2 separate regions of the Homo sapiens genome follow, and region 1 is linked to region 2. The links come from fine-mapping of genetic effects on gene expression. A gene starts in region 2. The other region holds a variant in brackets. All regions are shown on one strand. Distances are from middle to middle.

Region 1 (10,362 bases), 97 kb after region 2:
TCCCTCCCCCTCCCCTTGCTTCTGAAGATGGAGTCTGCGCGCAAGGCTTGGGAAAACTCCCCCAGTTTGCCGGAGCAGAGCTCTCCAGGCGGCGCTGGCTCAGGCATCCAGCCTCCATCCTCTGTGGGTGCCTCCAGCGGGGTCAACTACAGCTCCTTCGGTGGAGTGTCCATGCCACCCATGCCTGTGGCCTCTGTAGCACCTTCTGCTTCTATGCCAGGTATCTCATCCCCTGAGCAAGGCCTTGGGGTCCTTCTCCATTTATTATCAAGAAAAACGGATTAACAGCCCCGAATGTCACCTCCTGGCCTTGTCTTAAGTAGCATGTAGAAGTAGCAACTTGTTTTTAGGCCCAGTGGTCGTAGCTCCCATGTGCTGCAGGTAATGTGCACGTCCTGCTTCCCCACGCTGGGAAACAGAACTGGGGGATAACAGCGAGGCACTCCTGCCTACTGGTGACAGGAGCGAGCAAAGGCTTGACTTTGAGTCAGACCTGGGTCATGTGCTGGAGCCGTGTCGCCTCGGCTGGTGAGCAGCTCTTGCCGAGCCACAGTGTCCTCTCCTCTCTTACATGAAACTCCGTGGGGTGGCCACACCCGTGAGGCCAGGTCTTACCTGGAAAGGGCTTTGTATCAACAGAGCCCTCAGTCACTGGCAGCTACTTTTGTCCTGATTGCTGCCATCCTTATCGTGTGCCAGTGTCCCCAAGGGGAAGCGTGGGGGTTTTGAGGGCCCAGCTGCCAGTCTCAGTGATGTAATTCCAATAGATCCTTCTGACCCTCCACTGTGGACTCAATAGCAGGGAGATGAAGAGGACAGTGACTGAGAGACCAAGGCAGCCCTGGTTAAAGTAGAATGCCCCTTCGAGTGTCTGGGGTAGTTGGTGAGTGGGAGGTGGGAAGGGTAGGCCAGAGCCCACCTGCCTCCTCCCTCCTCCTAGGTCTGACGCTGCACCCTCCCTACGTTCCCTGAGGTGCGTGCCAGGCGTGTTGTGAGCAGGCGTGTGCTTCCGGCACACAGGGAACCTAGCAGCCTCTGTACACACGCCCTCGTCCCCACTGAGTCCCCTGGGTAGAGCAGACCTGTAGACTGTTTCCCTCAGGGACATTGAGAAGTAGTGAGGCTTGATCCTCTTCTACGTCCCTTTTGCCGCTCTGTTTCCAGGCAGCCACCTCCCGCCCCTGTACCTGGATGGCCATGTGTTTGCAAGTCAGCCCCGGCTGGTTCCTCAAACGATACCTCAGCAGCAGAGTTACCAACAGGTGACAGCAGCTAGCCAGGTGGCCTGGCTGGGGGTGGTGGGGAGGAGCCAGTGCAGGGCGGAATTGGCTTGCTCATCTATTTCTCATTGTCTGTCTGGTTTTCCATCCCCCTCACATGTGGTGACCAGCACCTGGCCCGCCACGGCAGCCAGGAGGCATTTGTTAAGCGAATAATCGAGACAGGGAAGAGGAGTGGAGTTGGCTGCTCCAGACTCTGCTTAGTTTTCCTTTCTCAAAGTTCTCCCTCCTGTGTCCTAGCCGGGGAATTAGCTAAAATGGAATTTTCTTTGGTGATCAGGTATCCTTCTGATGAAGAGAAGAAAGGCCTAAACTCCCAGGCATGGATGCATTAGAAAGAGGTAGTCTTAGAAATGAGCAGGCGTTGGTTATTTATGCAGGACTGGCATACTTTCTGTGCTGCCAAGGGGTGATTTTTGGAAGTCTCCCCTCTAATGCTGGTGCTGGGCCTTTGGGATGGTCTAGCCGCCCCTCAGACCCATGTGCCTCCACAGCCACGACAGTGGACTTCCAGGCAGAATCTGCTCCAAGTGCAGGCTTGCTGATGGAGGATGTGGCCTCTGCTGACCTCTTTTTAAAAACATGTTCTTAACTGCTGTATTGTTTGGTTACCAAGATTTTGGTTCTTGCATAACTGGGTCAGACTGCATGTATCTTTCTTTTTGTGCATTGTTAAATTCAGCGTTATGTTTTTGGAACTCACCTCTGTTGACGTATGTGCTAGGATCCATTTTTGTTGCTGTGTAGAATTCCAGGGTAGGGATATGCTGTGGTTTGGGGTTGCTACCAGTTTTTCATTATAGGCTTTATCCCAATAGCAAGGGAAGCCCAGGAATGACATGCTGGCATTTGAATTTTGGGCAGTGTTCCAGCAGCCATGTGGAGAGGGGCAGGGGAGGTGGGAGGGGAAGAACCACCTGGATGGGCCTTGCGGTTACCTCCCCGACCCCGTTTTCCCGTTCACAGGCCGCCGCTGCCCAGCAGATCCCGATCTCCCTTCACACATCTCTGCAGGCACAAGCTCAGCTTGGACTGAGGGGTGGGCTTCCTGTGTCCCAGTCCCAGGAGATCTTCAGCTCCTTGCAGCCCTTCAGGTGAGCTCATGTACCAGCTTGCGGAGCTGGCAGCTCACAGCCAGGGCCTTGGCCCTGTGTGCAGCCTTCGTCCTGCAGCTGTTTGGTGCTTGTCTGCTTTGGGGCCAGTGGGGCGGGGAGGGGTGGGAGTTTGCTCTGAATCACTCTTCAGTCCGTTGTTAACTGTGCTCTAGGAGAGGCCTGGGGCGAGCTGATATGTGGTGGGCCGTGTTTTGCTTTTCCATGTCATCTTGCCTCCTTTCCTTGCTCCTTCCTCCTCCTCTCCCCTTGACTCCCTGTCTCCTCCCCACCGCGGGCTTCTCCGTCAGTGTGGCTGCCAGTCATTGTGGCTGATGTCCTGTGCCTCGTACAGCCTGGATGTCTTCACTTGTTTAATCCAGCAGCATCAGCGCCATCTAGGAGCTTGTTCTCAGGCCCCATCCTGGACCCTCTGAGTCGCGCTCTGGGGGTGGGGCCGGGGATCTGTGGTTTAGCAAGCTCTCCGGGGATCTCTGAAGGGTGGGACCAGATCCGCAGCTGGACTCATCCACCTGATCCCGACCATCTGTCTGGCTTTTGCAGATCTCAGGTGTACATGCACCCCAGCCTGTCACCGCCCAGCACCATGATCCTCTCTGGGGGCACAGCCTTGAAGCCTCCATACTCGGCGTTCCCAGGCATGCAGCCCTTGGAGATGGTGAAGCCGCAGTCTGGCTCACCCTACCAGCCCATGAGCGGGAACCAAGCCCTGGTCTACGAGGGCCAGCTCAGCCAGGCTGCTGGCCTGGGTGCCTCCCAGATGTTGGACTCCCAGCTCCCACAGGTCAGGAATTCAGTCACTCTACCCAAAGCCCTAGGCTTCTTTCCTTCACGACCTTGCCTTTTCTTTTCACCCGCCTCTCAGTGTGTGCTGGCCTATCGTGCTGTTGGTTGGTAGCCACCGTGCCCATTCCTCAGCGTGCAGGAAATCAGCCTCTTCTGAGTAGCCCCATCACCTTTTTTTTTTTTTGGACAGAGTCTCGCTCTGTTGCCTAGGCTGGAGTGCAGTGGCATGATCTCGGCTCACTACAACCTCTGTCTCCCACATTCAGGCGATGCTCCTGCCTCAGCCTCCTGAGTAGCTGGGACTACAAGTGTGTGCCACTGTGCCTGGCTAATTTTTGTATTAGTAGAGATGGGGTTTCACCATGTTGGCCAGGCTGGTCTCGAACCCCTGACCTCAAAGTGATCTGCCCGCCTTGGCCTCCCAAAGGGCTGGGATGACAGGCGTGAGCCACCACCCCTGGCCCCTCATCCATCTCTTTATTCTTGAGACCTGGCTGTCCCCTAAGCACTGCCTGCTCCTGCAGCCCCCAGACGGGGGCTCCTTCCTTTCTCCCTGCCCTTGTGCAGTAGGGTGTGGAATGGGTTAAGAGTCCTCTTTGTGTAGTTGTTGATGCTTCTAGACTCCTCTTCTTCCTTCCTCCCTGAAACGCCAGCTTTGAAGCCCACACCATAGACTGTGCCTGACAAGCCCTTCACTCTGCTATGGTGCCATCACCACATCCAGTGTCTGCTGAGAAATCTTCCTCTCCGTCAACCTGTGGGCAGTATTTGGCACCTTTGAAGGTCACCCTCCTTGTCTGGTCTGGCTTGCAGTCTGTCTCCACTCTCCTGTTCCAGTTCCTAGTGGTTTTGATGTCTGCAGAGATGACCCCGGGTCTCTGTGCCATGGACCCTGTCCATGCAGTTTGTGCCCTCCTCGCCACTGGTGCCCTTGTTCACATGGGCCCCTGCTCTGTGCACTCCTGTCTAGGCTTGGCTGCTCCCAGTAGCTGTGGCTCTCGCATAATCTCAACTCTCAGTGTCCCTCTCAGTTGTCACCTCTGGCTTTTTCAATTCACTCCCTCTAGTGACCCAACTCCAAAATTCTTTTTTTTTTTTTTTTTTGAGATGGAGTTTCGCTCTGTTGCCCAGGCTGGAGTGCAGTGGCGCAATCTCGGCTCACTGCAACCTCTCTGTCTCCTGGGTTCAAGCAATTATCGTGCCTCAGCCTCCCGAGTAGCTGGGATTACAGGCGCCCACCACCCACCGGCTAATTTTTGTATTTTTAGTAGAGATGGGGGTTTCACCATGTCAGGCTGATCTCGAACTGCTGACCTCAGTGAGCCACCCACCTTGGCCTCCCAAAGTGCTGGGATTACAGGTGTTAGCCACCACACCCAGTCTCTGCCACCCATGTTTTTGTCATCCTCCCCCTTGGCCTGGCTTCTTCCTCCCCATCAGCAGATCTGCCGAGCCACATGGCCTTTGCATTTCATCCAAGCTGTGGCTCCCAGTCAACCCCCACCCTCCTAGCAGCTTTTCAGACTTGCATCTTGCCCCTCGCTGCCTCCCACCCATGACCTCCCTTTCTGTGTCACCCAGGAAACAGGAGCAGTGACAGTCTCCAAGCCCCTGTGGCCACATCCCTGCCTAGGTGCTGCCTGTGCCCCTGGGGGGCCCTGCCCCAGCACATCTCCCTCTCTTTCATGCATCAGATATCCCTTCCCGTCAGTACACAGACGAGCTGCAGTGCTGACCCCGTAATCCCGCCCCCCACACCCCTCGAACCACTTTCTTCACCCAGTTTCCAGGCCGTCGCTCCTGGCTTTCCTGCTGCCTCAGGCCTCCTCCTCAGTCTCCTTTGCTGTCCCCTCTCCTTCCCAGTCTGTAATGGTCAGCATGCCCGTGGGCCCTGCTTTGGGTGTGTTTCAAGAGTCATGGCTCTAAATTCCTTCATCTTCTCCTCACTCCCAAATGGACATCTTTAGCTCAGATCTGTCCCTGGAATTGAATCTCAAATCCAATGGACTTTCCAGCATGTCTGCTATGGTGTCTTATGGCATCTCAAGACTCATCATATTCAAAACTCGATTTTCCTCCCGGTCCTTCTGCTTGTCCAGTCCACATCCTCCTTGGCTCCCTGCTCCCCCTCACCTCACCCCCTTACCCTTCAGCAGGCCTGTCAGCTCTGGCTTTAAAAGGATTCAGAATCCAGCTGTGTCTCATCCCCTCCACACCCCTGCATGCTGTCCAGCTCCTGTAGGGACTCCTACCTGGCCTCCCTGCAAGTCAGATCATACCCCAAGTCAGCACTCTATAAATGGCAGCATCTTCCCATCATTTTCATCCTGCACCATTTTGGTGCTCCAAGGAGGAGCATGGTGTTTTGCGGCTCTGGCCACCACAAGTCTCAGTGATGTAATTCCAATAGATCCTTCTGACCCTCCACTGTGGACTCAATAGCAGGGAGATGAAGAGGACAGTGACTGAGAGACCAAAAGTGGCCCAGCCCCCCTACCCCATCCTGTTCCCCTGTCCTTACAGTCTCTGGGCCCACATCCCCACCTCGCATATCTTGTTCTAGTTAGTTAGGCCCTGCAGCTACCCTGTTCTCCTGTCAGCATGCTTCAAAGGACCCCCACAG[T/C]CTGGAATCCAGCCCAGTCTTGTTTTTACCACCACTTGATGCAAAACAGTAAGAGTCTTGAACGTGTGTGCTGTACAAAGGAATGCAGAGATATACGTCCGATGCAGCTTTCATCTTTTGGGACTTGGCTTCGCCATTACTTCTGACTTTCCTCACTCGTCCTCTCCTTGCCCACCCCGCCCCGTGTGCACCCATAAATCTGGTGTGCACCCACAGATCCTATGCCGCTCTGCATCCCGAGTGTCCTGCAGCTGTGTCCAGTGTGTGACACACTATCCTGGCAGTGTGCAGGCCCATGTTGGACAGGGCCCTGCCGCTTCCTTGGCACCTTGTATGCTTTCAGTAAGCACTTGCTGGACAAAGGCAGAAAGGGCTGAAGATAGACGCAGCCCTTAGCAGAGATGTGGATGAGACACACTTAACGCTGTTAGTTCCCATGCCTGCAGCCAGCTTAGTCTTGCCCGTTTTCTCACCACCTACTCTATTCCAGCAAGAAGACGTGCCTCTGCCATCGAAGGTGTGAAATCCTGGGCGATCTCTCCTGTGCTGCAGTAGAAATTAGAGCATGTCCTGCTTTATGCAGGCTTTGCTTTAGTTCTTCTGAAGTGTATGAATCTGAAGTGCATGTGCGGTCGCTCTTTGGTGCGTTTGGGGTTTCTCCATAGCATCATTCCCCCTCCTGACTGTCATTGTCGCCCAGCAGCTGACCATGCCACTGCCTCGGTACGGCTCCGGGCAGCAGCCACTGATCCTGCCCCAGTCTATTCAGCTGCCACCTGGGCAGAGCCTCTCCGTTGGGGCCCCCCGAAGGATTCCTCCGCCCGGGTCCCAGCCGCCAGTCCTGAACACCAGCAGAGAGGTAAGGGGACCCCATCTGCCTCTGACCCTAGGGAGGGGGCCTTGTGTCACCAACTTTTTCTAGCAAGCTAAGTACCCCTGTGTGGTAGAAAGAGCCAGTGGCGTGGGACTGCCAGGGCAGAAAGGAAGGTGACCATGTGTGGGGCCATCACAGAGGCAGGTCCTGGGGACTCTGAACATGTCGAGGGCTGAGGGCCAGGAATCAGCATTCCTCCCCAGCTCCCCAGGAGGCCCTGCTATGGACGGCCATGTTTCATTGGCTCTCCCACTTCACTTTAAAAAGAACAAAATATTGTGATGGTTCTTGCTTCTAAGAAGAAGCCCTCTTGAGTCTGGCTTAGAGGGAAAGGGCTTGCAGATTTCTCTAGAACAGGGGTCCCCAGTCCCCGGGCTGCAGAGCTGTACTGGTCTGTGGGAAAATTGTCTTCCATGAAACTGGGCCCTGGTGCCAAAAACCACTGCTCTATAAGATGCCTCCCTGGGAATTCCCATGGCCCTCACCACCTCTGCCCTGGGTTGTTCAGTAAGTGTGTGGTCCAGCTGTCTCCAGGGCCTCAAATGACAGCTTGTTCCTGCTTGGTCTCTCTAGCCCTCTCAGATGGAGATGAAAGGCTTCCACTTTGCCGACAGTAAACAGAATGTCCCTTCAGGAGGCCCCGTGCCATCGCCACAGACCTACAGGTAAAGCCACTCCCTGGGGACTGCGTGCTGTGTAGCTGAGCAGTTGCCAGAGCTGCGGCCCAGTGACTCAGAAGAATCTGGGCCCAGGGAGAGCCGCCAGAGACCTGGTCCCTCTATGGGCCATGTGTCACTGTGGTGTTTCAGCACTGGGATGCACTTGTGTTCCAGTTAAATTTGGGGGAGTGAGGAGTCAGGAGAGTGGTTTTGGTTTTAATCATTATAATAAGATGCTCTGGATTGGGGAGCTTTCTGGAAAGGTAGGAAAAGGAACGGCTGACATTTAGTAGGCATCAGGACTGACGTGACTTCCCATTAGATCCTAAAAACAGGACCCACTGGCCACAGGGCTGCATCCTGGCAAGGGGAGGAGCGTGGCCTTTCCCAGCGTCTCTTTCCTCAGACTTGCCCTATGACCCCTGCCAGGGGACTTTTTATTGCTGGGCTTATGGGGCCATTCCTTCCATGCTACAAACCAGCACCCTCTTTTTGCTTCCTTTGTGTCTGTCTCCACCTCCAGCAACTGTCTCAGGTCCCCTTAGCTGGATACTCAGGTGGCTCTGTCGGATGTTGGCGAGAGCCTCTGGTCCACTGCCTTTTCTGCCCGTGCTGGTGTGTGAAGGCAGCACGCTCTGGCCCTGGGCTCCGAGGGCTTGTACAGTCCACCCTTGTTACATGTGGGAGATTCCTGAGACCCCTCTGTGTTTACAAATGAGTGAAACAGACCTGCCTGACCCATGGTGCCCTGTGAGGTTAACACCATCGCTGCAGACGCCATGAGGTATCCCCACGACTACACAGGTACTTGTGGGCCTGAGGAGCGCTCTGCAAGCCGGGCCCCCATGGTCTGCAAGTTGCTCCAGCTGCACCCCCTCTGCCTTGCTGCCCTCCCTCTGCCCCACCGCCCTTTGCCTGTCCTCCATCACAGCATTCCACTCTTGTACCTTCATTTCCAGAGAAAGGGGTTTTTGTAGATTTTCCTCCCATTCCATCTTTTCTGTTCTTATTTTCACTCTCCTGGCTTCATTTATTTCTGTTTTTAGTACGTTTCGTTTTCCTACCATGTCTGTCACATAGACCAAAACATCAGGACTGTGTGAAAAAGATAGCTGGACAGCACCGACCATGGAGCGGAACTGGAAGGAGGAAGGCGGCTGCAGGTCTCAGCAGACGCTGTCCCGCTGCTGCCACAGGCAGATTCCAGCAGCCTCTGGCTACAGAGCCTTCCTCAAAAAGCAAAACCCAGAGACAGAGCCTCACGGGACAAGAGTCGCCTGTGTCTATGTAGTTGTAGGAATGAATGGCAGCAGATTATTCTTTGGAGCATATTTAGAAAGTGGAAGCCTTAAACTAGTAGCTTTGTTTCTATGGTGTTTTAGGGGGGTTGGGGAAATTGCTATAATTGTATAAAGCAGTGTTTGCCAAAGTGTTCTGGAAATAGAGCTGCTGAGATGTGCGCTGCAAAAACAAGGGTTCCCTGGTCAGGTCCTTGGGGGAGTGCTGTCCCCAGGGTGGCCTGCTGGGGAGGGTACTCACCACACAGGCTGAGCGGGCCTAGGTTGAGAGTCCTGTTGAACTCTGCACACGGCACTTAGGCTTTTTGACCGCAGACTTTTTTTTTTTCCACGTAGCACCTAATTAACATCCCTGGGAACTAACTAGTGGTCAGTGGAACACATTTAGAAGCATGTTGTACATTTTGGTTCCCCCATCCCCTTTTCTGAAAAGTGAAGACTAGAACAATACTCGGCACAGTTCTGGCTCAGCGTCAGGCTTCTAGGCCTTTTGTCTGGGGCACTGCATCGTGTTGGTCCAGACCCTGAGACGGCCAGTGTCGCTTTCTGCACAGCAGGACAGCCATGCCCATCTGTACAGGGCCTCAGCCTCCCTCTCTTGCGGTGCGTCTCCTTGAGCTCTGTCCTGGAGGTGCCAGGGTGGTCAGTGACAGCCACCCCCTCACCCTTCTGCGTTCTGGGCTGTCTTAGGTCTGTGGTTGTTTTCCATCCAAGAGATCCACGGACCGTCCCGAGTGAGCGCCTCTGGCCGCAGGCCCTTCCTTCCTTGTGCCTCCTCCATGTGCTAGGCTTTGACTCCATTTCTGTGGTGACACGTTGTGTATTCTCAACCCCTGCCTTTGGTTTTTTCAGGCCTAGCTCTGCTAGCCCCAGTGGGAAGCCCTCTGGATCAGCAGTTAACATGGGCTCTGTGCAGGGACACTACGTGCAACAGGTAGAAGATGGCTTTCCAGACCCTTCAGCCCTGGACACTTAGGCCCGTCTCCAAGCGCCAAAAGAGAAGGGACTGTCCAACCTATCTGAGCGCCCCCTGTCTAAAGACAGCCATGCCCTAGCGGTTAGAGCACAGAACCGGGAGCTGGGCCGCCCGCGTCCCTCCTGGCGAAGGCATTTCTCCTCTTGACGGGCGTCTGGATCCTTCCTTGTCCTGCAGAGAAGGGAGGATGCTGATTCCTCTGAGGAGGTGGTGCTGGAAGGTGGACCAGCCCTGGCAGGTCGGGGCTGAGGCGCCCTGGGAGACTCGGTTAGGTTTGGGGGTCGGCTTTAGGAGCCGGGGTGCGCGCGCTGGTTCTAGTCAGTGGTGTGTCTCATCTTTGTCTTGGCTGGGTGGGAGCACAGGTGAAATTAAGTTTTCCCATTTTATAATGAAAAGGACATCGCAGTGTCTTTTCCTGCACGCACTATTCTCTTCTCTATTCTCTAAAACGTGCTGGGGCTCAGAGCTTAAGCCCCTCAGACGTGGGTTTTTAATCAGTCACTGTGCCTGGCTGGTAGAGATGGGAAGTGATTGCTCTCATTGGTTCCCCTAGGGGTCATGAAAGTTGTGTGGAATGAGCTTCTAAAGCTTTCTTCCAGAGTTCAGACCTGGTGGGGGGCAGATGCGCTGGCTGCTCTGTGACTTCCCCACCCCACTCCCCGTGTAGAGCCACAGACCAGGGGAGCCCTGACTAGGAATGGGGCCCCAGGGAAAGGTTACAGAGTGGGAATGGTGGGGGGGTTGGCTGAATCGC
Region 2 (16,176 bases):
TCAGCCTTGCTCTCCCCTGGAAAGGCTAAACTTCCCAGACTGGCACTGCTGGATTCTTCTAGTCCTGGCTCGGCTACCCATGTCATTTGTGTCCTTGCCTATGTAAGTCACTTAACTTCTGACCTAAATTTCCTTATCCGTAAAGTGGGAGAAATAATAACAGTCTTGCAAGTGTTAATTAAGTTATCTTAGCAGCATGCCTGGCCCAGAAAAATGCTCAGTAAACAACAGCTATCCTCATTCTTTTTTTTGAGGCGGAGTCTCGCCTTGTCGCCCAGGCTGGAGTGCAGTGGTGTGATCTCGGCTCACTGCAAGCTCCGCCTCCTGGGTTCACGCCATTCTCCTGCCTCAGCCTCCTGAATAGCTGGGACTACAGGCGCCCACCACCACGCCCGGCTAATCTTTTGTATTTGTAGTAGAGATGGGGTTTCACCATGTTAGCCAGGATGGTCTCAATCTCCTGACCTCGTGATCCGCCCACCTCGGCCTCCCAAAGTGCTGGGATTACAGGCGTGAACCACGGCGCCCGGCCATCATTCTTATTGTTGTCATCTCAGAGAGAAGTGCAGAGAGAAGAGGATTTCCTGAACTTGGGATGTGGTTTGGATGTAGCCTAACCATTGAGTTTTACGGGGCAAGTGAAGGATCTCTGTTTGTTTGTTTTTTTTAAGAGATAGGGTCTTGCTCTGTTGCCCAGGCTGGAGTGCAGTGGCGTGAACATGTCTCACTGCAGCCTCGACTTCCTGGGCTCAAGCAATCCTCCCACCTCAGCCTCCGGAATAGCTGGGACTGCAAGTGTGCACCAACATTCTCGGCTAATTTTTTAATTTTTTTGTGGAGATGGGGCATCTCACTGTTGCCTATGCTGCTGGTCTTGAACTCCTGGGTTCAAGCAGTTTTCCTGCCTTGGCCTCCCAGAGTCCCGTGATTATAGGTGTGAGCCACTGCGCCTGGCCTATGCCTGTGGCTTTTTAACTCCCAGGGATGCAGCAGCTCCCACTGTCCCCAGAGGGTGTCACCCCACTTCCAGATCTGCCCGAGGAACAGAGCCTTTGACTTGACTTTCCCCCCTTAATACTTCCTCATCTGTCTTCCCAGAACACCCACGTCCTTCCAGGTTTTTCATACGCTTATGTCCTCTCTTGTCAGATGATAAAAACGGGTAACCCTATGAGTCCCAGGGTCCCTTCTGTTGTAGCCAATGAGGTCAAGGGCCAGACACCCATTCTGCCATTCAACAAACCAACCAAATTCATTGAGCACTCACTATTTGCCAGGCACCATGCTTGATGCTAAGGATAGCACAGGTGTATTAGGGTTCTCTTAGAGGGACAGAACTAGTAGGATATATATAATCATATATATATATAAGTCATATATATATATAGGAGTTTATTAAGTATTAATTTACACGATCACAAGGTCCCACAACAGGCTGGCTGTCTGCAAGCTGAGGAGCATGGAGAGCCGGTCCAGGTTCCAAAACTGAAGAACTTTGGGAGAAAGATGTAGGCTGTGAAGTTAGGCCTGTCTCTTTCTTTCTTTCTTTCTTTCTTTTTTGAGACAGTCTCGCTCTTGTTGCCCAGGCTGGAGTGCAATGGCACGATCTCGGCTCACCGCCACCTCAGCCTTCCGGGTTCAAGCGATTCTTCTGCCTCATCCTCCCAAGTAGCTGGGATTACAGGCATGCACCACCACGCCTGGTTAATTTTGTATTTTTAGTAGAGACGGGATTTCTCCATGTTGGTCAGGCTGGTCTCGAACTCCCGATCTCAGGTGATCCGCCCGTCTCCGCCTCCCAAAGTGCTGGGATTACAGGCGTGAGCCACCGCGCCCGGCCACCTGTCTCTCTCTCTCTTAGTTTTCTGCCTGTTTTATGTTCCGTGGCAGCTGATTGGATTGTGCCCACCAGATTAAGGGTGGGTCTGCCTTCCCCGGCCACTGACTCAAATGTTAATCTCTTTTGGCAACACCCTCACAGACACACCCAGGATTAATACTTTATATCTTTCAATACAATCAAGTTGACACTCAGTATTAACCATCACAGCAGAGAACCAAATGGACTAAGTCCTTGTCCTCCTGAGCCTTAGACCGATATCTCCCTTGTGCCAGACTTAATCCCTGAGGGATTTGCATCAAATAAGACAGATGCGGTCATCCTGCCTCTCACGGTACTGTCATCTCCTCCACTTCCCAAACTTTGGCAAAGGCTGTGAGGAACAGTGGAGAAGGTAAAGAGCTCACTGCCCCTGTGCCACCACCGAGAGTGTGAAACCTGCCCAGCACTGAGTGGCATGTGCTATAAAGTATAAAATACATGCCGGACTTGAAGACTTCATGTGACCACAAAGAATGTCAGTGATCTCATTTATAATTTTAAAATATTAATTACCTGTTGCAACAGTAATATTTTTGATATAGTAGGCTAAATAAAATTCATTATTAGGCCAGGTGCAGTGGCCCATGCCTGTAATCCCAGCACTTTGGGAGGCCCAGGTGGGTGGATCACTTGAGGCCAGGAGTTCAAGACCAGCTTGGCCAACATGGCAAAACCCCATCTCTACCTAAAATACAAAAAGTTAGCTGGGTGCGATGGCACACGCTATGTAGGAGGCTGAGGCATGAGAATCATTTGAACGCATTGTGGGCGGGGGGCCGAGGTTGCAGTGAGCCGAGATTGCTCCACTGCACTCCAGCCTGGGCAACAGAGCGAGACGCTGTCTAAAAAAAAAAAAAAATCATTATTAAAATTAATTTCATCAACTTTTACTTTTACTTTTTTTTTTTTTTTTTTTAGATGGAGATTCCCTCTTGTTGCCCAGGCTGGAGTGCAGTGGTGCAATCTTGGCTTACTGCTACCTCCACCTCCCAGGTTCAAGCAATTCTCCTGCCTCAGCCTCCCGAGTAGCTGGGATTACAGGCATACACCACCACACCCATCTAATTTTTTGTATTTCGTAGAGATGGGGTTTCACCATGTTGGTCAGGCTGGTCTTGAACTCCCAACCTCAGGTGATCCGCGCACCTCGGACTCCCAAAGTGCTGGGATTACAGACGTGTGCCACCACGCCCAGCACTTTTTTTCTTTTCTTTTCTTTTGAGACAGAGTCTTGCTCTGTCACCAGGCTGGAGTGCAGTGGCGCGATCTTGGCTCACTGCAACCTCCGCCTCCTGGGTTCAAGTGATTCACCTGCCTCATCCTCCTGAATAGCTAGGACTACAGGCACACGCCACTATGCTCAGCTAATTTTTGTATTTTTAATAGAGACAGGGTTTCACCATGTTGGCCAGGATGGTCTCGATCTCTTGACCTCGTGATCCGCCCTCCTTGGACTTCCAAAGTGCTGGGATTACCGCACCTGGCCCCTCCTTTTACCTTTTTTTTTTTTTTTTTTGAGACGGAGTCTCGCTCCGTTGCCCAGGCTGGAGTGCAGTGGCATGATCTTGGCTCACTGCAACCTCCCCCTCCCGGATTCAACCAATTCTCCTGCCTCGTCCTTCCAAGTAGCTGGGACTACAAGTGCATGCCGCCACTCCTGGCAAATTTTTTGTATTTTAGTAGAGATGGGGGTTTCACCATGTTGCCCAGGCTGGTCTCGAACTCCTGAGCTCAGGCAATCCACCCACCTTGGCCTCCCAAAGTGCTGGGATTACAGGTGTGAGCCACTGCGCCTGGCTCCTTTCAATTTTTTTTTTTTTTTTTTTTGAGACAGAGTTTCGCTCTTGTTGCCCAAGCGGGAATGCAGTGCTGGGATCACGGCTTACCACAACCTCCGCTTCCCTGGTGAATCAAGCGATTCTCCTGCCTCAGCCTCCCAAGTAACTGGGATTACAGGCATGCGCCACCATGCCTGGCTCAGTTTTTGTATTTTTAGTAGAGATGGGGTTTCTCCATGTTGGTCAGGCTGGTCTCACACTCCCAACCTCAGGCAATCCGCCCACCTTGGCCTCCCAAAGTGCTAGGATCACATGCATGAGCCACTGTGCCTGGCTGGGCAAGTCACTGAACTTTCTGATGCTCTATTTTCTCGACTGTTAAGTGCAGGTATTCAAAACACCAGGTATGTTTTCTTCCTCTGACACCTTGCTGGATGCTTTGTCCCCATAGTGGTGACAGTAGGGGAAGGGAGGCTGGGCACCCACCTCCAGGCTTGCTGAGGTTTGGAGGCTTTAGTGCATGTGCTTATTTGGCTGGTTTTGTGAGCCGTGTGTTTTGTGTGGTTGGTCAGGAGCCATGATTTTGGCCTCAGTTGTCCAGGCATCCACTTTTCAACCACCATGGAGATTGAGTGCTTACTTTGTGCCAAGCTCTCTTCTCTGCTTGGGGATCCCAGCTGGAGAGACACCACAGTGCTCCCCACCCAATTTTCGCAGGTAGAAACTCTTAGGCACCAAAAGGCTAGCTCTGCTGGTTGGAGACAGAACCAGAACTAAAACCTCGGAACATGGTTGTTTTTTTTTTTGTTTTTTTTTTTTTTGAGATGGAGTCCTGTTTTGTCGCCAAGCTGGAGTGCAGTGGCGATCTTGGCTCACTGCAACCTCCAACTCTTGGGTTCAAGCGATTCTCCTGCCTCAGCCTCCCGAGCGATTACAGGTGCCCGCCACCACGCCTGGCTAGTTTTTGTATTTTTGGTAGAGACAGGGTTTCACCGTGTTGGCCAGGATGGTCTTGATCTCCTGACCTCGTGGTCCTCCCGCCTTGGCTTCCCAAAGTGCTGGGATTACAGGCGTGAGCCACTGCGTCTGGCCTGTGTTTGTTTTATTGACTGTAGTGGCCCTTCTCTGCCCAGTTCAACAGCATGGCCCCAGAGCCTGGCACAGTGAGCACCAGAGTGCAGGTGCCCAGTGAATGAACGGACGAACTTTGATTCCCAGGGCTCTCCTCTGGGCTAAGCACTTTGCAGGGATGGATGACTGCATGCCATTCTCTCCATGAGGATGGTCAGGGAGGTAGGAGATGGCTGAGCTGGATTTGAAGCCAGGTCTCTTCTCTCCCAAGACTCCTAGCTTGCCTTTTTTTTTTTTTTTTTTTTTTTTGAGACAGAGTCTTGCTCTGTCGCCCAGGCTGGAGTGCAGTGGTGTGATCTCAGCTCAGTGCAAGCTCTGCCTCCCAGGTTCATGCCATTGTCCTGCCTCAGCCTCCCGAGTAGCTGGGACTATAGGCGCCCGCCACCACGCCTGGCTAATTTTTTGTATTTTTAGTAGAGATGGGGTTTCACCATGTTAGCCAGGATGGTCTCGATCTCTTGACCTCGTGACCCACCTGCCTCGGCCTCCCAAAGTGCTGGGATTACAGGCGTGAGCCACTGTGCCCTAGCTTTTTTTTTTTTTTTTTTTTTTTGATACAGAGTCTCGCTCTGTCGCCCAGGCTATAGTGCAATGGTGCAATCTCGGCTCACTGCAACCTCCACCTCCCAGGTTCAAGCAGTTCTCCTGCCTCAGCTTCTTGAGTAGCTGGGATTACAGGCACATACCACCAGGCCTGGCTAATTTTTGTATTTTTAGTAGAGACAGGGTTTCACCATGTTGGTCAGGCTGGTCTCGAACGCCTGACCAAGTGATCTGCCCACCTCAGCCTCCCAAAGTCCTGGGATTACAGGCTTGAGCCACTGTGTCTGGCCCTAGCTTGCCTTTTAACCCTTCCCTCGCTGTGTTGCCTTCAGCAAGTCTCCAAGGTTGTACTAGTTTTCTATTGCTACATTACCACACATTTAGTGGCTTATGTAACTTTGTTATCTTAAAGTTCTGGAGGTCACGGTGGTTGGCAGGGCTCATTTTCTTCTGGAGGCTTTAGGGGAGAATCCATTCCTTGTCCTTTGTAGCTTCTAGAGGCAGCCTGCATTTCTGGGCGTGAGGTCCTGCGTCATTCCTTTGTCAGTCAATATGATGAACTCCGCTTCATCAACCACATCTTCTCCGACTCCGACCCTCCTTCCTTCCTCTTGTGAGGACCCTTGTGATTCCACCTGCCCAACCAAATAATCCAGGATTCATCTCTGCATCTCAAGATCCTTAACTTCATCCCATCTACAGAATCCCTTTTGCCAGAGAAGGTACCATTTTCACAGATTTCAGGGATCAGGACTTGGACATCTTTGGTGGGGGGCATTGTATTGCCTCCACAAAGTCTACTTTTCTTCTCTGTTGGATGGGCACACTAGTGTCTGTTTTATGGGTATGTCGTGAGGATTACCTGAGTGACTCTATAGGGAGTGTTTAGCACAGTGGCTGTCACATAGTAAGTGCTCAGTAAACCACCCTGTTACTGTTCAGCCTCCTCCTATCATTTTGTTTTGAGACAGAGTCTCTCTCTGTTGCCCAGGCTGGAGTGAAGTGGCGTGCTCTTGGCTCACTGCAACCTCCACCTCCTGGGTTCAAGTGATTCTTGTGCCTCAGCCTCCCGAGTAGCTGGGATTACAGGACCCCACCACCATGCCCGGCTAATTTTTGTATTTTTAGTAGAGACGGGGTTTCACCATGTTGGCCAGACTGGTCTCAAACTCCTGACCTCAGGTGATCTGCCTGCCTCGGCCTCCCAAAGTGGTGGGATTACAGGGGTGAGCCACCACGCTTGGCCTTACAAATAAAGAATCTGAGGCTTCAGATAGTTTATTTCTTTTTTGCTTGTTTATTTTCTTTCTTTTTTTTTTTTTGAGATGGAGTCTCACTCTGTCACCCAGGCTGGAGTGCAGTGGCATGATCTCGGCTCAGTGCAACCTCCGCCACCCGGGTTTGAGCAATTCTTCTGCCTCAGCCTCCCAAGTAGCTGGGATTACAGGCGACTGCCACCATGCCTGGCTAATTTTTGTATTTTTAGTAGAGATGGGGTTTCACCATATTGGTCAGGCTGGTCTTGAACTCCTGACCGCATGATCCACCTGCCTCGACCTACCAAAGTGGTGGGATTACAGGTGTTAGCCACTGCGCCAGCCTTACAGATGAAGAACCTGAGGCTCAGTTTATTTATTTAATTTATTTTTTATTTGTTTATTTGCCTTCTATCATTTTTATTAGTTGCTGGGTTTTGAGCACTGGGCCAATTCTATGGCCTTCCTGAAGATGGTCAAGGAACAAAATCGAAAACAAAAATTAGGGTTACATCCTCCCTGTTTTGTAGAGATAGCGAAATATTGAAGACATTGGCAGGGGAATAATGCAGATTTGATGATGTAAAACAGAGTGGCCGGCACTGTAATCCCAACACTTTGGGAGGCCAAGGTAGGTGGATCACTTTAGCGCAGGAGTTCCAGACCAACTTGGCCAACATGGTGAAATCCCATCTCTACCAAAAATACAAAAATTAGCTGGGCATGGTGGCAGATGTCTGTAATCCCAGCTACTCAGGAGGCTGGGGCAGGAGAATCGCTTGAATCTAGGAGTTGGAGGTTGCAGTGAGCAGAGATTGCGGATTGTGCCACTGCACTCCAGCCTGGGGGACAGAGCGAGACTGTCTCAAAAAAAAAAAAAAAGAAAAAAGAAAAAAAGGATAACACTGAAAATGACCATGGATAAAATGTAGGAAAATTCAGAGAATTATAAATAAGGCTATAAAAGTATCCAGAATTCTACTCCCCAAAAACTAAGCTTTGTTCACCAGCCTCAGTTCTGGAGTTAGGCTGAAGTGGGTTAATTTTCCTTCTGGGTCCAGCAGTGTGGCCTGGGGCACATTCTCTCAAAGCCTCCTTTGTCTCACCTGTGAATTAGAACAATAATATCTGCCCCTGGGTTAGGATTAAGTGAGACAAACCACGTGCTTTAGCATAGGGCATGGCCCGCAGCTGGTGCTTAGAGCAACCGTGACTGGAAGAGGGTGGGATGATTTGGGTGCCAGGCCCTAACATTTTTTTTTTGTATTTGCTTTTTGAAATTGCTTTTATAGTTGGTTAGGTGTCTAAAAAAGTAAGAACCCTCCTCCGCTCTCCCAACCTCAAACCACGGAGGTAACCAAGACAGGAGTGCAGTCTCCCGGACCTTTTGTTTTGCAATCACACAAACACACAACACTCAAGAGGAGGGGCTTATTAGTTTTCATTTTGTAAAAATGGGACAAAGTACCCATATTGTGCAACAACCTTGCTTTTGAAATGAAAAAAGTATTATTTCTGCTTCCTTTCCGTTCATATACCGTATACATATTTTAACAAAATCCGGGCTTAGTCTGTTCTGAGGCGCTGCAGTTTTGAAGGGGGAGGGGGCGGAGATCCGGGCTCGCTCCCCCGTCACTGCCCCCTCCATCCCTTCCCCCTCTTTCCGGGCGCCCTTCCCCCGGGCCCAGGCCGGGCCCATGCCCTTCCCAGGCCCCTTCTCTTGGCTCCTGGCCCCTCCTCCGGGTCTCCTCCCCGATCCCCGCTCTGCCCCGTTCTCTCCCGCCTCTCCCGCCGTCCCCGGGCCCCTCCCCACTCCCAGCCCCCTCCCAGCCCCCTCCCGCCGCTCCCCGCCCCTCCCCCCTGGCCCCAGCCCTCGCCCGGCCCCCGGGCCGATCCCAAGGCCGCCGCTCCCGGGAGGCGCGGCAGGGGGCGCTGCGCGGGCCCAGGTTGCGGGCGGCGGCGGGAGGAGGAGGACGAGGAGGCGGGGGCGGCGGCAGGCGGGGGGCGGGGAGCCGAGCGCGAGGGAGCGAGCGGCGAGACAGGCGCCGAGGCTCCACCGCGCAGCGACGAGCGAGCCCGGGAGGAGGGAGGGAGCGAGCGAGCGAGCAGCCCGCGCCGCCGCCTCGCAATCCGCCGCCATCCCGCCGCCCCCGTGCCCGACCGCCGCCCGACTGCCATCGCCCGGCCCGGCCGCGCCCGCGGAACCAGACCAGGTGGGTCGGGGCCGGGGCCGGGGCCGGGGCGTGGGGGCGGCGGCGCTAAGATGGAGGCGGCGCGGCCCGGCCGGGCTTTGTCTCCCGCGGCCGCCGCCGGGGGCCCGGGGGCCCTGCGGCCCTGCCCGACCTTTGTCCGCGAGCGCGGCCGCCGCCGCCTCCTTCCCGCCGGGCGCGGGGCTGCGGGGCTGGGAGGCCGCGGGGCCTGGGGGCGGCGGGCCCGGGCGCGCTCGCCATTGTTGTGGCGGCGCCGCGCGGCCTCAGGCTCGGGCGGGGTCCAGGGGCCGCGCGACTCCCTCAGGGCTCGCCCGCCACCCCCGTACCCCCGAGGCCGGGCCGGGCTGCAGAGGCCGGAGGGGCGGGGGTCCCGGGCCCGCAGCCGGGTCTCGGGGTTCTGGGGCCGGCGTCTTTGCTCCCCGCCCCGCCCAATTGACGGAGCAGCGCGCCCGAGGCGGGATCCTGCGGGGTCGGGCCTTGGGTCCGGGGCGCTGAGCGGCGTTCGCGGGGCCGTTCCTGGCGCGGGGTGGGCCGGGCCCCGGCGGCGCTAAAGTTGGCGGCTGGGGGAGGGAGGCGAGCGGCCGCCCAGTCTCGGTGTGAGTGCGGGAACCAGAGGGTTATTTTCGAAATGCTGAATGCTCCATGCTAAAAATGTTTAATAATAAACAGGATGTCGCCACTCGGGGCCTGCCAGATGGGGTTTTTTTTTTTTTCCTCCTCTTTTGCCTCCCCTCAACCCCCAGGAGAGAAATTCAGCCCTGTTGAAACTGTGGGCCTCTGAAGAGTGGATTTGCCTTAAGAGGTGGATTTTTTTCCTTTTTCTTTTTTCCTCCTTCTAAATATCGTGGGAGGTCGGAGCCCACCTTTAGGCAAGAATTGGAGGTGTTTTCAGTGGTGAGCTTGAAGGAAGTGGGAGAAGGGGGGCTGGGGAGTGTCTTTTGCTAAATGGCTTCCTGGGAGAAATCTTTAAATGCCTTTGGTTTACAGGACTGTTAAACTTTCCCTAAGATTTTTTTTTTCTTTAAGGTTTAGTGTGCATTTGATGTGGCTTTGTACAGTGTCATCCAGTTTGGTTTTTGTAACCAATTGTGTGCGGTCTTAGCATGGTTTTTCCGAATCTCGCTGCAGCCATTTAGTCATGTCTATGCACAGCGCTGTGGTGTAAGGTGGGACTGGGGAGGCCCAGGCATTGGGGTGCAGATCCTGCTTCTTTCTTCCGTAAACCTAGTGACTCTGGGGCTGTCTGAGGCTTCATCTGCATAAATCGGGGCGTGCACCCTCCACCTGGCAGGTTTGGGCAGCGGTGAAGGGCCTAGCAGAGGGCCTGGCACAGTTAGTGGTTCCTCCTACGGTTGTTGGTATAACTGCTGTCAAGTCCTAGGACAGACGTGAGCCCCTTGTGGTGCCACCCATAGAGCCAAACTGTGCCCATGGATGCCACAGGTGCTGGCCTAAGGCATGGACAATACAGAAGGAATTCAAGGCCCAAACATTAGTGGGCGCTTATACAGTGCTGAGCCTCTCGGGAGGCAGGGATGGGAAAAAGTAGCATTTGGAGGTCTCTAGAACTTAGTAGACCCGGAGTGTGTGGCAGTTGGTCAGTTTAAGGCAGGGTTAGAACAGTACGAGATGCTCAGGACAAACAGACGCCCAAGGAGTCCTGCCTTCTGAGGATAACTGCTTTCCTTGGGGATTGGCAGATAATCATCTGAGAGTGAGTTTCTACTTGTTTGGGCAAGTGTGTCTCTTGGAGCCTGCGCAGCTGGATTCTGGTCCTCATCGGGTTACCTTTACAAAGCAAGTCTCTGAGGCTCAGATCTTGCATCTGTAAAATGGGAATAATTATGCCTGCCTTGGGTATCTATTAGGGCTCTTGGGAGCCTCACTTAAGATTCACAGTGAATTGTTTTCTCTCCATAGGAAGGTGATGAAATGTATGTGTTTGTTGATTATCTGTTTTTCTGGTTCCTTTCTCCTTCCTTCCTCCCTTGCCCTCTTCCTCTCTCCCTCCCTCCCTTTCCCTTCCTTTTCCTTCCTTCCCTTCCTTCTTTTTTCTTTTCTTTTCTTTTTTTTTTTTTTTTTTTTGAGACAGTCTCACTCTGTCGCCCAGGCTGGAGTGCAGTGATGTGATCTCAGCTCACTGCAACCTCCGCCTCCTGGGTTCAAGCGATTCTCGTGCCTCAGCCTCTGGAGTAGCTGGGATTACAGGCATGTGCCACCACACCTGGCCAATTTTTGTGTTTTTAGTAGAGACAGGGTTTCACCATGTTGGCCAGGCTAGTCTCAGACATCCGACTTCAGGTGATTTGCCTGCCTTGGCCTCCCAAAGTGCTGGGATTACAGGCCTGAGCTACCGCGCCCGGTCTTCTTTCTCTTAATGCTTATTTTTTCCTCTTCTCTTGGTTGATGGAACTGTGACTTCCCCACCCCAAATTCTATGGCCGGCTAATGTTTTGCTATGGTGACTATCACCCATCTACCTGGAAGCACCAGAATGGCTTAGTACAGCTAGGGAGCTCAGCCAGATCTCGGTGTCTGCTGTTTGAGATTGTGTGGAAGGACTATTGCTAAGAAGCAGGAGACAGACTGAACCCAGTGTTGGCCACAAGTGAGGACTGAGACCCAGGTCACCTCTTGGCTGAACATGTTAGCTTGTTGGTAAATGGCTCTGCAGTGGTTCTGCATTTTATTGGGGAATTTGTTTTGGTTCATTTTGGCATTCCCGCAACCATCTTGTTGGTTTTTTGGTAAAATGTGGCACCCCCTCCAGACCTCCTAGCTGTGGAACTGAGATATTTTAGCAGGGTCCTGTCATCCTTTGATTTTTCCTCGCTTCCTGCCTCTTGGCCCTTCCTTTTTGTCTGACTTCACTCGGGCCCAGTCTGGCTCTATACTGTTAACTGGTTAGTTAGGCCAGGAGATAGTCGCTGCCTCTCCCATGAGCTTCTGCATACCTGTGAATTTTGGTTATCTGTGGCCCCCTAATGCTGATTGCATGCCCTTGCCTTAGGCCCTAAGCCCACTGTGTGGGCGTCCCATCTCGTACAGTGGCCGTCTCCAGCCTCCACTGGGCCCAAATAGGTAAAAAGAAAGCCTGGGGAAGGAAGAGCCAGGAAACCTCGGGAGAGTGGAATTTCAGGAATGGCAGGTCAGAACTGGTTCCAGCATGGGTCCCTTTGCCTTGTGCTTAGCTGAGGGATTTTTGTTATTAATTTTTTTTTTCCTGTTCAACACTCCTAACCTCTTTTGAATTTCAGTTCTCTTTTTTTATCCTGAAGGATTATTTTATTGTACTTTTGAGGGTTTTTTTTTTTTTTTTTTTTTGCCTTGCACAAAGTACTGACTCATGTTGCTAATGGCTGTGGCTGTATGCTAGTTATATGTCTCATTATCCTACCCCTTAAGATTGATCATTTCTGTGTTGGTTTCTATTTCAAACCAGAATAGGCCAGGTGGGTCAATTCATGTATTTCTGAATTCAATAATGAGGCTTCCCTACCGTGAAATGTACATATCTTGTCATGGGCGGACAGGTACTAAATAGAGCCTATCTATACTAGATTTTAAAACAATGGATTTCTCCCCAAAAAACAACATTTCCAGCAGACAATGGGCTTTGTGCTCCAAATCTTGTAATTTTGGTTTTAAATAAATTTCATGTAAGGAGGCAGGGCTAACTAGACTGTCTTCTTTTCAGATCATAACTTGATCTCTTTTTAAGATTATTTCTGGGACTTGTACAGCCTCAGGAAACTTGGGTCTGTCATTGGGACAAAGAAATACAGGCACTGGCTGTGGTGTTGGAGATGGGAGCGACATGGGATATGGTGAGCTTTGTTTCTGGTGAAATAGAATTGTTTGTCATTAGCTTTAGGTTTAAAAGGTGCCATTCAGACTGGACCTCCTCACCTGGGAGCTGGCAGACCTGGGCCTTGCCATTGGCGATATTACTGTTTATACCTCTGGGTGGCACGTGGGAAATCTCTTTTGTGCTGGGAGGTAGGTTTGTCTTAGTGTCTTGAGCCAGAAGTTGTGGTTGAGCTTTGTTCTCAGCTGTACTTGTTGGTTTTCTGTGTGACCTGAGAAGCATCCTTCGTCCGAGCTGAAGTGCACCTCCGAGGTGCTGGCAGCAGCACTGATTTGTGAAGCATTGCGTGCAGCAGGAGTAGCTGGCAGAACAAAGCCTATCTCAAGTTGCTGGCGGTCTTTCACATCTTGTACAGGACTTCCTTCCGTTCTTACCTCTGCAGCCAGTTGTGTGGCTTCCGTCTGGACCGTCTTCCTCCTTTCCAAGATAACCATCAGTCTTTTTCTCTGTGGGGCTGCAGCAGCAGTATTTATTGCATTTTTAATTGACTTGTCAGGCAATAGATACTCCTTGAGCACCTATCATTTGCCAGGCATTGTACAAGGCCCTTTAAATACATTTTTCTTGTGGTAGGGCAAGGTGGCTCATGCCTGTAATCCCAGTACTTGGGGAGGCCAAGGCAGGTGGATTGCTTGAGGCCAGGTTAAGACCAGCCTGGGCAATGTGATGAAAATAAAAAAATGCCTCTTAAAAGAAAAAATTAGTAGGGTATAGTGGCGCATGCCTGTAGTTCTAACTACTTGGGAGGCTGAAGCAGGAGGATCACTTGAGCTTGGGAGGTTGAGGTTGCAGTGAGCCGTGATCATGCCACTGCACTCTAGCCTGGGCGACAGAGTGAGACCCTGTCTCAAAAGAATAAAAAGTAGGTCGGGCACGGTGGCTCACGCCTGTAATCCAAGCACTTTGGCAGGCCGAGGTGGGCGGATCACCTGAGGTCAGGAATTCAAGACCAGCCTGGCCAACATGGTGAAACCCCGTCTCTGCTAAAAATACAAAAATTAGCTGGATGCCGTGGCGAGTGCCTGTAGTCCCAGCTACTCAGGAGGGGTGAGGCTGGAGAATCACTTAAACCTGGGAGGTGGAGGTTGCAGTGAGCCGAGATTGTGCCACTGCATTCCAGCCTGGGAGACAGAGTGAAATTCTGTCTCAAAAAAAAAAAAAAAAAAAAAGTCTGGGCACGGTGGCTCACACCTATAATCCCAGCATTTTGGGAGGCTGAGGTGGGCGGATCACGAGGTCAGGAGATCGAGACCATCCTGGCTAACACGATGAAACCCCGTGTCTACTAAAAATACAAAAAATTAGCCGGGCGTGGTGGCGGGCGCCTGTAGTCCCAGATACTCAGGAGGCTGAGGCAGGAGAATGGCATGAACCCGGGAGGCGGAGTTTGCAGTGAGCCGAGATCACGACACTGCACTCTAGCCTGGGCCACAGAGCGAGACTCCATCTGAAAAAAAAGGAAAATACTGAAAAGAATAAATGCCAAAATAAATATATAAATCACTTGTGACCTCACCATCCAGAGCTAACTGCAGTAAAGTTGCTGGTGTGTTTCTTTCCTCTGATAATGTCTGTGTTTTCTAAATTAGAGCAATAGTATATATACATTGAATACACAGTTGATAGCTTGCTTTTCCCCTTTTAATGTTATAGTGTATTCCTCTACGTTATTTTTATAATTATATAATTGCTATTATACGGATATGCCATAATTTATTGACTCCTGTATTCGTAGACATTTAGATTATTGTTGCCCTCTTTTCCCTCCTATAAGAGAAACTGTAGGGAGCATCTCGGCATGTTAAGTCTTGGTCCACGTGGCTGATTATCTCCCATAAGTGGAATTTCTGGGGTCAGAGGATTGCAGGTTTGTTCTTCTCTTCTGGACAGGATCGGTTGTCTCCTTCAGTCTTTGTCACCTCCCTCTCCAGCCTTGAGCCCAAGGCAGTCTCTTTCTTAGTTTTTTCTTTTTTGAGGCAGGGTCTCACTTTGTCGCCCAGTCTGGAGTGCAGTGATGTGATCTCAGCTCACCGTAACCTCTGCATCCTGGGCTCAAATGATCCTTCTGCCTTAGCCTCCCAAGTAGCTGGGATCCTATAGGCATGCGCCACCATGCCTGACTAAGTTTTGTATTTTTTTGTGGAGACGGGGTTTCGCCATTTTGCCCAGGCTGTTTGTTTTTCTTTTCTTTTCTTTCTTTTTTTTTTTGAGATGGCATCTTGTTCTGTTGCGCAGGCTGGAGTGCAGCCGTGCGATCTTGGCTCACTGCAACCTCCACTTCCTGGGTTCAAGCAATTCTCGTGCCTCAGCCTTCGAGTAGCTGGGATTACAGGCGTGCACCACCACACCTGGCTACTTTTTGTATTTTTAGTAGAGACGGGGTTTTGCCATGTTGGCCAGGCTGGTCTCGAAATCCTGACCTCAGGTGATCCACCTGCCTTGGCCTCCCAAAGTGCTGGGATGACAGGTGTGAGCCACCGTGCCTGGACACCCAGGCTGTTTCAGACTCCTGGACTCAAGTGATCCCTCCGCCTCCGCCTATCAAAGTGCTGGGATTACAGGCATGAGCCACGGCACCCAGCAAGGCAGCCTCTTTCATGAGCCACTAGGTTCTGGGGGGTCTCAGTCCTGGTTAAGCCCTTTGATGAGTGGGGCTTGAGGTCTTACTCCATTTACTGGTTTGAACCTGGAGAAGCCTTTTGTCTTAAACAGTTTTTGTTTCTAGGGACATGGATGCCCCATTGACTCCTGGGGAGATCCTGGTCTGGTGGGGAGGAGGCCCTGGAGAGCCCCCCACCTAACTTTGGCCTCATCCTCTTGTGGTTTCTTTCTTTCTTTTTTTTTTTTTTTGAGACGGAGTTTTGCTCTTGTTGCCTAGGCTGGAGAGCAATGGCGCGATCTTGGCTCACTGCAACCTCTACCTCTCGGGTTCAAGCGATTCTCCTGCCTCAGCCTCCTGTGATTTCTTCGGAGCCCCCTACAGTTTCTCTTTATAGCAGTTTTCACAACTTGTAAATAGGTGTTTTTTTCTTTATTTGAATTTTAAAAATTGTGGTGAAGTATACATAACATAAAATTTACCATTTTTAAGTGTACAGTTGAGTGGCGTGAAGCACTTTCACAGTGTTGTGCAACCATCACCACCATCCATCTCCAGAACGTTCTCATCTTCCCAAACTGAAACTCTGTTCCCATTAGATGCCAACTCCCCTCCCCCATCCAGTGGCGGCGGCCACCATTCTTACCATTCTTTCTCCTTTTTTTTTTTTTTTTGAGATAGGGTCTCACTGTCGCCCAGGCTGGAGTGCAGTGGCACGATCTTGGCTCACTGCAACCTCAGCCTCTTGTGTAGCTGGGATTACAGGCACACGCCACCACACCCAGCTAATTTTTGTATTTTTTTGTAGAGACGGGGTTTCACCATGTTGGCTAGTCTGGTGTCGAACTCCTGGCCTTAAGTGGTTTGCTTACCTCAGCCTCCCAAAGTGCTGGGATTACCGGCATGAGC

Alleles and levels. Positions count from the first base shown, and alleles are read on the strand shown. Sizes are in standard deviations (SD) of each study's normalised expression.
In carriers of allele T in region 1, the expression in skeletal muscle of the gene that starts at base 8,626 in region 2 tends to be lower than with C alone (moderate effect, 0.48 SD a copy in FUSION).

What was found. PIP is the estimated chance that this variant, and not a neighbour inherited with it, causes the effect.
Region 1: its variant is fine-mapped to the expression of PRRC2B in skeletal muscle (FUSION, PIP 0.95).

What each region holds. Positions count from the first base shown.
Region 1 is chr9:131,484,921-131,495,282 of GRCh38, forward strand. It overlaps PRRC2B (proline rich coiled-coil 2B), which reads left to right. Exons shown (of 32, transcript NM_013318.4): 25 at 28-220; 26 at 1,165-1,262; 27 at 2,247-2,374; 28 at 2,936-3,176; 29 at 6,505-6,660; 30 at 7,249-7,340; 31 at 9,485-9,566. It overlaps SNORD62B (small nucleolar RNA, C/D box 62B), which reads left to right and starts at 5,566; the gene lies at 5,566-5,651. It overlaps SNORD62A (small nucleolar RNA, C/D box 62A), which reads left to right and starts at 745; the gene lies at 745-830. RefSeq lists an enhancer at 4,277-4,777. The variant T/C (reference allele first, on the strand shown) is at 5,802.
Region 2 is chr9:131,385,461-131,401,636 of GRCh38, forward strand. It overlaps PRRC2B (proline rich coiled-coil 2B), which reads left to right and starts at 8,626. Exons shown (of 32, transcript NM_013318.4): 1 at 8,626-8,803. RefSeq lists enhancers at 7,850-7,999, 9,126-9,887, 10,650-11,411, 13,029-13,108, 15,807-16,176 and silencers at 8,470-8,659, 8,690-8,799, 9,030-9,319.